Linked DNA regions of Homo sapiens: region 2 is linked to region 1. Evidence: fine-mapped expression QTL. Tissue or cell type: whole blood. Region 1 holds a variant in brackets; the other region holds the start of a gene. All regions are shown on one strand. Distances are between the middles of the regions.

Region 1 (7,183 bases):
TAAATTACAGTTACACACTGCCCTAATTTATTGATGCCATAATGCCCCTAAATCTGAATAAGACAGTAAATGCTTTTGTTTCTGCAGGACAAAATGGGGTAGGAATTGACTGCAGGATTTAATGTGATTGGGGTTCTAACCTATTATTAGCGCTAAATAGCTGCGTGAACCGAAGCAGCTTATTTGACATTTTTTTCTTAGACTTTTTTAAAAAAAGTACTTGTCTCATAAAATGTAAATATCAAATAAGAATGAATCTAGAACTAGATTTATCCACTTTTTTGACTATATGTTCTCTTTTTTCTTTTCCCTGGAAGTAAAAAAAAAAAAAAAAAGAAAAACAAGGGTTAATTCAAAATTCAGCTACACTGGATGTTTGGCTCAGCTCTGGGTTTTACTTTTGAGTTAAACTGGACCCATCCTTTTTTTCCCCTTGGTGATTTGTTCTTCATAAACACTTTCTATAGTACAATTCAGAAAAAAATAGAGGCACACGGCTATTACTTCTACCATAATCTGCTGTTGAGGAGACATTCAGTGTGAGGATGGGGTCTGGAGGTGGGGGACGTGTTTGGTTAACAGGATAACGGCCTCTGTGATGAACTGTGCAAAAATCCCATCAGTCAACATCTGATTGCAGCCAGATGGTCAAGGCTCATGGTGGAAGAGTTGTAGTGAGCCAAATACTCCTTTAGTTCCCCACAGCCCTAGGGTAGGCCCTAATTGGGCCCATTCTTTCTTCACTGAGATCTATATAAGTGGGTACTAAAAATGGAACTGACAATGTAGTATAACTGCTATGATGGCTTCTTTATTTTTATAAACTTTTTTTTTTTTTTTTTTTTTTAGCAATCATCAAGGTGCTACCCCTTTAGTTCTGGCAAAGCGCAGAGGAGTAAATAAAGATGTCATCCGATTGCTGGAATCTTTGGAAGAACAGGAGGTGAAAGGATTTAACAGAGGAACCCACTCGAAACTGGAGACCATGCAAACAGCTGAGAGTGAAAGGTACTGGAGATACAACTTTTTTTTTCTCACTGTATTACTCATTCCTTGAACTCCTGGGCTCAAGCATTCTTCCTGCCTCAGCCTCCTGACTAGCTGGGACTATAGGCACATGTAGCCACACCCAGCAAGATAATACGATTTTTTAAGGGGAAAGTCACTTTAAGTATGTGGATTTATGGTTAACTTTGTGAACTTTAATATTCATTTGCTTTTAAGTGCAACTTGAACTTTATATAGGACCTTATGACTGCAGATTACAATTGAGAAGCTATTAACAGAAAGTACTACATGTCATGTGCGCATAATGTTCTGTTAGCCACCTGCTGTATTGACAGTACAAAGGAGAAATAGTAACAAATGAATCTGAGGGGAGGAAGCCGGAGCTTGATGATTTTAAGTACAGGTCACAAAAAGAATGGAATTTCAAAAAAAAGAGAAGTATAAGTAAAGCCAAGAACTTGGGCAATTTTAGAAAAGACTGAAAGGTAGTTTCAAGGGTAGGGAAGTGGAATGCTGAGAAACAAGAAAACAAGAGAGGGAAAGCAAGATAGTATTTAACACATGCACAGTTCAGTAATGTGAAAGTGAAAGTGACTTTCATATGAGTTGGAGCTAATGAAATTTGGATTCCTGTGAGTAATCGAAGCTAAGATGTGGTAACTGACAGGGTCTTGAATAGCTCATCATTTCTCATCTAGAAGCAATGGAGAATGCAGTTCAGAGAGCTCCAAAAAGGTGGCGCACCATCTTTTCTCCTGATGTCACTGGGCTCAACAGGTAAAGTTAATAGGCCAGACTTAGTTCTAGTAGCATATTATCTGGTTGACCACCATGCAGTTTCAGCCTTCCACATTATACGTGTGAAGGAAAAAGGATGCTGAGCTTCCATAGCCTCTTCCCAGTATTCTCGGTAGGTTGTAAATAGAATAAGCAAGGGCCCACATCAGCTGTTTACCTAGTAGCTGATGGACTAGGACTTGGATTTAGAATCACATAATCCACTTAGACCATTGGGATCATTGTTTCTGTGAGTTCTAAATGAAATCCTCTCTGTTTTTCATAGCTTACCCTTCATTTGATTCCTTTGTACCCATTTTTGCTTTCCTCCTCTCGTGTGCCAGATGATGTGCTCTTTGGGGACCATTAATTCCACTCTCAAGCTTAGGTCTATTTTGTTCAGATACTTTCAAGCACTTTAATACAGTCCTAAAGAAATCCAAGAGCTTTACTTCTGGAACAGTGCATACTCCTCTTGAGTGATCACTGAAAGCTGACAAATAGATAATCAAGAAGTCAGAGATGTATTTGCAAGCCCTTGTTTTTCTCTCCTCTGTACTTTGGATTGACAGAATGGCATAAGCACTTTAACAATATTGAGTTAACTATTATTTGTTAAAGATTTTTTCCTCTAAGATAACTTGAAATTTATTTTTATCTTTTTATGAAATAACATTAAGTACTTTAAGCTTCTTTACCATGAAAAACAACCAAGAATGTGTTCTTGTTTGGTATATTTTTAGGATCTTTATTTTGTTAATAGCCAGTTTCTTGGCACCCTTTTATTAGAAATATACTTTTAGCATTAGTTTGCCTCAGTTGTGATTACTTACTAAGAAGTGATAAGTACAAAATAATATTCCATTGGATGAGCAGTGGAAGTACTCCTGCTTCCTTCACATACCTGCCATTTCACTGCAGCATGAGAGTTTGTATTAATTGTAACACTGTATAAAGCTCGTTTTTCAAAAATTGAGTTATTAACACTTTTATTACCTAGTTTTCCTATCTTACTCCTACCCCTCAGTGTCATGGTAGAAATTCAGTGGTTGAAGCTTAAATCAGAAAGTTGAAAGGTAATGTCATTAGGAAAATGCAAATGAGGACCATAGTGAAATGCCACTTCACACCCACTAGGATAGCTGCAATTAAAAAGATAGATAATAACAAGTGCTCTGGAGGATGTGGAGAAATTGGAACCCTCATACACTGCTGATGGGAATGGAAAGTAGAGCAGCTTCTTTGGAAAAGTCTGGCAGTCCTTCAAAAAGCTACACGTAGAGTTACCATCTGACCAGCAGTGCCACTTCTAGGAATATACCAAAGAAAATTGAAACATATGTCCACACAAAACTTATATATGAATGTTCATAGCAGCATTATTCATAATAGCCAAAACATTGATACCACCCAGATATCCATCAGCTGATGAAGGAATAAACATCATCTGTTCATCCAATGGAATATTACTAATATTATTATATTATACTGATACATGCTACAGCATGGATAAATTTTGAAAACATGCTACATTGGAGAAGCCAGGCACAAAAGGCCACATATTACATGATTCTGTTTATGTGAAATGTCCAGAATAAGCAAATCCATAGAGACAGAAAGTAGATGAGAAAGTAGACTAGAAGCTGGGAGAAGGGGCAATGGGAGTGACTGCTAATAGGTACAGAGTTTCTTATAGAGGTGCTGAAAGTGTACTGGAATTAGAAGAGATGGTTGTACAATTTGGGGAATATATGAAAAGCCACTGAATTGTACAGTTTCAAAAGGTAAATATTATGGGATGTGAATTATGTCTCAATAAATGTAGATGAAAAAGTTTAAAGAGATTGGCTAGCACATGGCATTATGGCATAATTGTGTAATGGCTTTTTCTAGAGCAGAAGATAAAGCAGGGTTTTAAATGTATTTACTATAATATTTTCCATTTCTCTTAGGATTCCCCCAAGACAGCACAACTTCTGCAGGCCTTATAAGGGACTATAAATCAAGTTAATGAAAAATATTTCCCCACTCCTCCATATAACTCTAAGTTTAATTCCTTTTTACTTTGTAGGTATGGGATAACAAAAACAGTATAGCTATCACATTTTTTAAAAAAGATACATGCAAACACACCCCCCAAAGACAGTGTAGATATCACGTTTTTAAAAAAAGATTATACACACACCCCATTATGTTAGAATCAGATATTCCCTGGACAGTAGAAAGCATTTCATTGGATAAAGTCTTTATAGAATATCCCGATTGGCAGAGCTTCATGAGCTCTGAAGAACAATGAGAATGCTCATGGAATTTTC[A/G]TTTTATACCTAACATGTATAAGGGCATGTCAACTCGTAATCAATAAATTTTACATAGGTCAAACTAAGCCTCTGCAGAACTGTGTTATCTATTTGTGGTTTTACTCTTTTAGGCCTTCTCAAAGTTCTAATCTTATTTTTAAACTTGCTGTCAAGTGTTCCAAAATTACTGTGGTGTTGTAGATTCCCACTGAAAACATCATCTCTTATTCAGAGAATAAACATGTTTTAATTATTAAAAAAAAAAAAGTTTGGGTGTTAAGCAGACTGGCCCATTAGGAAGTCAGTTTCCCATGATCAGAGAAGACCTCTAATGTTGGTAAAGGCTGAAGGACTTTTGTTTGATGGTATCAAGAAGTAAAATAAAGTTGTAGGTTAAAAAATGTCAGTTTTGCATGTTTATTCATAGTTCATAATGAATGAGACTCTAAGATACTGTTTTATGGGAGTTAGGAAGGATAGTAATGAACTTTGATAACCAGTAGATAGTTGATTCCTATGATCATGGTTATGGTGGCTTTAATCTAAATGATACCCTCTTATTGGGCCTGTATGTTGTGATATAACCATGAGTGCTCTTCCCTTAGTGCTTCCAAGTACCAAAGTCAGATGCAGTTTCTCTTTGTGGTAGTCGTATTTCTCATTGATAAAGTTCTGAAAACCAGAATCAGTGTTTTTATGGTATTTGCACTACCTTATTTTCAACTAGACTAGCCTTTATGCAGAAGAGAAATGAACATATTCTGTCTTACTGTACAAGATAGAACTAACACCAATAGGAAGAAACTATTAAGAATTCCTAATGACTAGGCCAGCTGTGGTGGCTCATGCCTGTAATCCCAGCACTTTGGGAGGTCAAGGCAGGTGGATCACCTAAACTCAGGAGTTCAAGACCAGCCTGGGCAACATGGCGAAACCCTGTCTCTACCAAAAATACAAAAATTAGCCAGCCATGGTGGCATGCACCTGTAGTCCCAGCTACCTGGGGGGCTGAGGCAGGAGGATTGCTTGAGCTGGGGAGGTGGAGGTTTCAGTGAGCTGAGATCGCATCACTGTATTCCAGCCTGGGCGGCAGAGTGAGATTCTGTCTCCAAAAAAAAAAAAGAATTTCTGATGACTAGACGAGTCCACATGTACAACAGGCTGAGGAGTAACCTTCCATTATTAGAGAATTACAATTAAAGAAGGAATTCCTTCATTGGTCAGATTATTGAACTAAATTAATAAAAATTCCCTTTTAACTTCAAGATTCACACACACTGTATAAGTGACTTTTTAGATTTACTCATCTTCCCCCCTCCCCCCAACAGACATTTACTTTCTCAGTTCTAGGGCCTAGAAGTCTGAGATCAAGGTGTCACAAAGTTGGTTTCTTCTAAGGCCTCTCTGCTTGACTTGTAGATGACTGTCCTCTTCAGGTGTCATCACCTGCATGTCTGCTTATTCGTATTAACACATTCTTAAATTATGAGTCTGCACTTTGAATCTTCTAAATTTAACATAACAAGAATGTGTTGTGGTTTAATATCTTGATGGAGACAACTCATAACCTATTTCAAGACTTCTGCTCAGGACACCTTAAAAAAAAATAGAGATGGTGTCTCGCTATGTTACCCAGGCTGGTCCCGAACTCCTGGGCTCAAGTGATCCTCCCTCCTTGGCCTGCAAAAGTGTCGGGATTACAGGCATGAGCTACCACGCCCAGCCAGGACCTTTTAAATAGAATTTTTAACTTGAGTTTACTAAATTCTAAACCAAGAGAAACATACTCATTACCATTTAGCAATTTACAGTTTAGTATATATTGTTCAGATACGTAAGCATGTAAGAGTGTGTATATATATATATGTGTGTGTGTGTGTGTGTGTGTGTGTGTGTGTGTGTGTGTATTTGGTCTTTTCTAAATAGTAGCCCTGTGGTTTTATGTTTTTGGAATTGCTGTGTTTTTTTAATGCCCTTTTTGCTCTTTCTTCTTCCACAGTGCCATGGAAAGCCATTCACTCCTCAATCCCAACCTGCAGCAAGGTGAAGGAGTCCTCTCCAGCTTCCGAACCACGTGGCAGGAGTTTGTGGAGGATCTGGGCTTCTGGAGAGTATTGCTGTTGATCTTCGTCATTGCTTTGCTGTCTCTTGGCATTGCTTATTATGTGAGTGGGGTGCTACCCTTCGTGGAAAACCAGCCTGAACTGGTGCATTAAAGGAGCTCATGGAAGATGAGGCAATTAATTGCCTGTTTCCTGGCTTCCAATGTTTGTTCTCAGTTTCTCAGAATTTTTCTTAGCGCAAAGCAGTGAGGGCAGTACATGTTCTTTTTGCATTTTTAATTATTGTAATCCTTTTAGATAATGATGTGTTCATTTGAACTAACTACATACTATGATCAAGTATATTGCATCCTAACGCTACCTCTGACTCAACCTGACTTTGTAGGAAAGCCTACACGTAGCCTTGTTTGATAAAAACACGGAAGTGACTAGAGAATGGAAGATAAAGGAAGAAGCTAGGAAGTCCTTGCTATCAAAACCTTATCCTAATATAGGACCAATTGAAGTATTCAAAAAGAAAAACAGTATCTTATATGATTAGTTTTTGTTGGTGGTTTTGTTTTCATTTATTTTTGCAAGAGCCACTTTTTATTTACTTTCTCTAGGGATAAGAGATAAAACTTGAAGTACTTTTTTCAAATCTTGTGTGCAAATTAGTATTGTTAGCATCTATTTGGCTTATTTTAGTATTTTTAAGTCTAGTCACAAACCAAACAAAACTTTTGAAAATGAGCTATATTTTGTTCAAAGATAATTGATTTGATCTTATATTTATTTGTTTTTAGGATAATTTTTGATCTTTTTGTAAACTGCTTTGCTTGTTAATATCTGTGAAAAATAAATGAGTTCATTTTGTTCACTTTCCAATTTTCCCGAGTATCCTAGTCATCAAAGATAACAGTTCATCAGAATTACAGTCAGAAAATCCTTTTTCTACTGAATAGTTAGCAGGGAAAAATAATTCTGATATTTAACTGTCATAATTCTGTAGTGCTATTATAGTGAAAAACTCAGTTCTATAAGCTAGCTGTGTTGTCA
Region 2 (5,000 bases), 34 kb before region 1:
ACTCACAGTTGAATCACAATTCTGCATGGCTGGGGCAGCCTTAGGAAACTTACAATCATGGCAGAAGGCACTTCTTGACAGGGTGGTAGGAGACAGAATGAGTGCTGAGCAAAAGGAGAAGCCCCTTATAAAACCATCAGATCTCATGAGAACTCACGCGCTCTCATGAGAACAGCATAGGGGAAACTGCCCCCATGATTCAATTATCTTCACCTGGTCCTGCCCTTGACATATGGGTATTATTATAATTCAAGATGAGATTTTGGGCAGGGACACAGCCAAACCATATCAGCTCCTAACAGCCACTGTGTCAAAGTGCCCAGGTGTGGTAACATGAAGGAGCCATAGAATATGTGCAGCATGCAGTTCACTTTAATCTCATCAGAGAAAAAAGCTGTCTTCACCATCCCTACATTTTTTCATATCAATCAAAAGCAGTAATTCATGAAGAGGAAGAGATAAATTTGAATAGAAGTAATGGAGAGGCTCTCAGATTGTTGGATGAGTCAACTAATGAAGAGTAAATCTTATTAATACATTGGGAAAAGCTTTAATTTCCTTGCTAATTTGTCATAGTTTATAGGCATCAGTGAAGATATTATAAACTCAATACACAACCAGAAGGAGGACATCAATAACAAACTGATTAATAAATGTCATCAATTTAACAAGTAATATTGCTGATTAGTCATAGCACAATAAAATGTGAAATGCCCTAAGATCTTATAACTTTTTTTTTTTTGAGATGGAGTCTTGTTCTGTCACCCAGGCTGGAGTGCAGTGGTGAGATCTCGGCTCATTGTGACCTCCGCCTTTTGGGGTTCAAGGATTCTTGTGCCTCAGCCTCCTGAGTAGCTGGGATTACAGGTGTGCAACACCGTGCCTGGCTAATTTTTGTATTTTTGTAGAGCCAAGGTTTCACCATGTTGGTCCGGCTGGTCTCGAACTCCTGACCTCAAGTGATCTGTCCACCCCAGCATCCCAAAGTGCTGGGATTACAGGTGTGAGCCACCGTGCATGGCCAGATCTTATAATTCTTACATGAAAGAAATGTAATAGTGATTTCCTCTAATATGACAATAGTCCTAAACCTTTACATGACACTTTCAAGAACAAATTATTAGATGGTGTAGGTGGTCCTTGAATGAATGAACCATGAGATACCCTAGAGCAGGGGTGTCCAATCTTTTGGCTTCCCTGGGCCACATTGGAAGAAGAATTGTCTTGGGCCACACATAAAATACACTAACACCAGCAATTGTTGATGAGCTAAAAAAAAATTGCAAAAAAAAAAAAACTCATAATGTTTTAAGAGAGTTTATTAATTTGTGTTGGGCTGCATTCTAAACTGTCTTGGCTGCATGCAGCCTGCAGGTGTGGGCCAGGGGTTGGACAAGTTTGCCATAGAGCGTGGCTTGGTTGGATGAGGGTGCTAGAATTCAGAGGACGGTCACTGTGCAGTGAGAGTTGTCTTGGCTGTAGGACTGGAGTTGGTAAAATGAAAAAAAGAAAAAACTAGTTTTGCATGAAAGAATGTTTCCAGCATATGAATGTCCCACCACACTTTTAGTTAGTCTTGGCTGTACATGTTGCAATAAGTCAAGGAACCCTACAAAGTAGGATGGAAGGATTCAAACTGCGAATCGCTTGAACCCGGAAGGCGGAGTTGGAGTTTGCAGTGAGCCGAGGTTGAGCAACTGCACTCCAGCCTGGGCGACAGAGTGAGACTCCGTCTAAAAAAAAAAAAAAAAAAAAAGATTCAAACTGCTTTTGAAAAAAGTAAAAATGCAGGGTTATATTTTAGAAATAGTGCAGCCAATCATTAGTGGCTATTCCTAATATGTCAATTTCGGGTCTATAGAAGACCTACCTAGAGGCCAGCAACTATTAATTGATGCTTATAGCACCTAATGAAACTGCCCTTGCCTTTGAAGCCCCCATTTAGCTAAGGGGATGGGATGTGAATTTAGAATAGGACGTGAAAAGTGCAAAATGCTCCCGGACTCAGATCGGATAAACCTCTTCTAGGCTGTCTTTCTCTTCTGAAGCCACAGTTTTGATGCTTTCCCTAATTCAGAGCAGGCTTTCCCGGAGTCTCTGACTCAGAGCAGCCCGAGCCACCGTGAGGACCGCCCACCTGCAGGGGGCGCGCCGGGGGCTGCAGCGCGAGACCGCTCTGGCCCAGCGGGGACTCCGACTACCCCTGTCTGGCCCCTCCCCTCCGCCCGTCACCGCCTCCTTGAAGCTGCCGCTGTCGCTGCTGCTCGTTCGAGTCGCAGGTACTTGGCCCGGGGCCTGTGGGCAGCGCCTGGGCTAGAGCCACTTGATATCTCCTGCACCGTCCCTGTAGCACTGGAGGTCCAGTAGGCCTGGCCGGGGCCCTGAGGGGCGAGGGTGCCCGGGCTTCCCACACCTTCCGCGGCGACTGGAGGGAGCCGGGCCGAGGAAGCGACCGCGGGTCCGTGATGGCTTCTTCGCGGTCTGTGTGTTCACGAGGGCCGGGCAGAGGCCTGCGAGGGTTCTCGTTTGCGCTTGCGGGTTAGGGCTGTGGTCCGGGGAACCCCTGGGCAGCGCGGGCAGCCCTGGCTCGCGGTTAATCGGGGGGTGGAGCGCGGAAGCCACGCCGCAGGTCCAGCTGCTCGGCCGGGGCGAGACGGTGCTTTCGCGGCGTGTGCTTGCAGGAGCGCACAGTTCAGGCGCCGGGACAAGCTGTTGGGGTGTGAGTGAGCTCTCCAGAATGGCACATGGCTCCGGGGTGCCCGGGTTAAAAGGAAGGATTTGCACACCTTCCACTTAGGGCTCGGGTAATCGCAAACTTCCTCCCTTAATTGGCTTGCAGTGCTAAAAAGCAGATCGTTCTCTCTGAGGTTTTCCCAACAGTACCTCAAGAAAATAACATCTGTTTTTTGTAACGTTCCACGGTATTCGGAATTGGCTACAGAACATAATAAGGTAAAAATATGCCATTGAATAGTAGCGCTTCTCAATCTTTAAAAAATGACGGTGGTACCTAGGAGCCTCTTAAAGAGCTGTAATATGAGTGGTGTGGGGATTATTTTTATGTTCTAGTAATAGCTATTTTCAGTGCTTATTTTATGTCAGACACGGTGCCATTGCTTTAAATACCTGGTACCTTTAATCCTTGAAGCAACCCTATCAGGTACCATTTCCATTATACAGATAAGGAAACTGAGGCACCGAGAGTCTGACTTCTCCAAGGTCAGAAAGCTAGCAAAGGCTGAGCGAGATTTGGTCTCATCTCCCTTACTTCAGTATCCCTGCGTCTGTTATCTAGCCAAACATGTAGCGCTGTCTAAGAGTTTTATCAATTAGATTTGTAGCCTGAACTGATTTCTCTCAGGCTTAGTTTTCATGGTTATATGCAGGAGTCCTACATGAACTCCTTTTTAGTTTAAAAGGAGTTTAGTAAGAAAACTGTTAGCTCATTAAGGACTATAGTGATAATAAAGTTAAACTTGGACTGGGGTTCTCACTGTGCCAGTACAATTTGATTTGAAATAGAGATGAATTTGTTTGGTTGTTAACACACTTTATTACATTTCTTCATTATTTATGTTTCCATACCATTTTTTAGTGAGTTCACTTTGCCTTTGCATTATTATGGTAGCAGTACCAGAGGGAAATCAAAGATTTTTTGATGATAGTAAGTTAATATTTTACAGAATACAGGAAAGGCACTGGAGAGAGGATGTGAAGTGATAAGGAATTTTTGGCATGTTATATAAATTGTGTTACTATGGAAAACAAAGGATTCTCACAGTTCTTTATCAAAAGGGAAATTGTATTTCCCATTGTGGAAATAAGTTGGGCTTTATAGTCCCAAACTTCTTAGCCTTACCTATTATAGATTTAAGAATTTGCATATTCGGCATTCATATAGCAAGCGTATATTGAGTGCCTTCTATGGCCAGGCTCTGTTCTAAGCACTGGGGGATGTGAGAGTGAACAAAATGAAGTCCTTGTCTTCCAGGAGCTAACATGTCACTGGAGGAAGGTGGGGTTGGGGACGATAAGCGGGATTTGTGAAAGTTAACGTATCTGGAGTCAGATGGTAACAGTTACTAGGAATAAAAATAAAGTAGCAAAGGGGGATAGGAAGCACCAAGGAAGGAACAGGTGCAGTTTTAAAATAAGGACTGGTGCCATGGAAAAGACTCAAGCAAAACTGAAGGCGTTGGGGACCGCCATGCAGCTGTCTAGGGAAAGAGCATACCAAGCAAGGGCAAAAGCCCAGAACCCTTCAGTCTTGTTAGAGGGACAGCAAGAGAGGAACAGCAAGGAGGCCAGTAGATTTGAGCACCTGGAGGGAAGGAGGGTGAGACAAGGTCAGAGAGCTAATGGGCCCAGGTAAGGACTTTTGCTTTTACTCTGAGTGAGAAGGGAGGTGTTTGGAGGGTTTTGAGCAGAGGAATGAGGGGATCTGGCTTAAGGTTTTTAAAGGATCACTCTGGCTGCTGTGTTCAGTGTTGACTGTAAGGGCAAGGATGGAAGCAGGGAGACCTGTTAGGTTGATGCAGTAATTGAAGCCAGAGAGAATGGTGGCTTAGACCAGGTGGGTAGTAAGAGAGGCAGTAAGAAGCCGTCGTATTCTGAGTATTGCTGATAGGATTTGCTTATGGTTTGGATGTGCTTATGAGAGAAAGGGTGAAGCACGACCCTGTGGCCTTTGGCCTGAGCTATTGGAAGGCTTTAGTTAAACAGTGTACTGAGATGGAGAAGACTGAGTGTGAAGGTAGGTGGAGCCAGTTTTAGTCAGGTTTGAGATGCCTGTTCAAGTGGGGTTATAGAGACGGGAGTTGAAGAGAAAGGTCCAACTGGAAATAGAAATTTGGGAAGTCACTAATGCAAGCTTGTGCAACCCAAATTTGTAAACTTACTTAAAACATTATGAGATTGATTGTATTTTTTTTTAAGCTCATCAGCTATCGTTATATGTGTGCCCCAAGACAGTTATTCCACTGTGGCCCAGGAAAGCCAAA

The links. PIP is the estimated chance that this variant, and not a neighbour inherited with it, causes the effect.
Region 2: ANKRD46 starts here. The variant in region 1 is fine-mapped to the expression of ANKRD46 in whole blood (TOPMed, PIP 0.93).

What each region holds. Positions count from the first base shown.
Region 1 is chr8:100,521,670-100,528,852 of GRCh38, reverse strand. ANKRD46 (ankyrin repeat domain 46) reads left to right here. Exons shown (of 5, transcript NM_001270377.2): 4 at 850-1,008; 5 at 6,082-7,183. The coding sequence ends at 6,298. Among named protein-coding and RNA genes, the nearest start is that of ANKRD46, 34 kb to the left of the region's middle. The variant A/G (reference allele first, on the strand shown) is at 4,101.
Region 2 is chr8:100,556,990-100,561,989 of GRCh38, reverse strand. It overlaps ANKRD46 (ankyrin repeat domain 46), which reads left to right and starts at 2,231. Exons shown (of 5, transcript NM_001270377.2): 1 at 2,231-2,279. RefSeq lists enhancers at 1,928-2,067, 2,035-2,329 and a silencer at 2,068-2,237.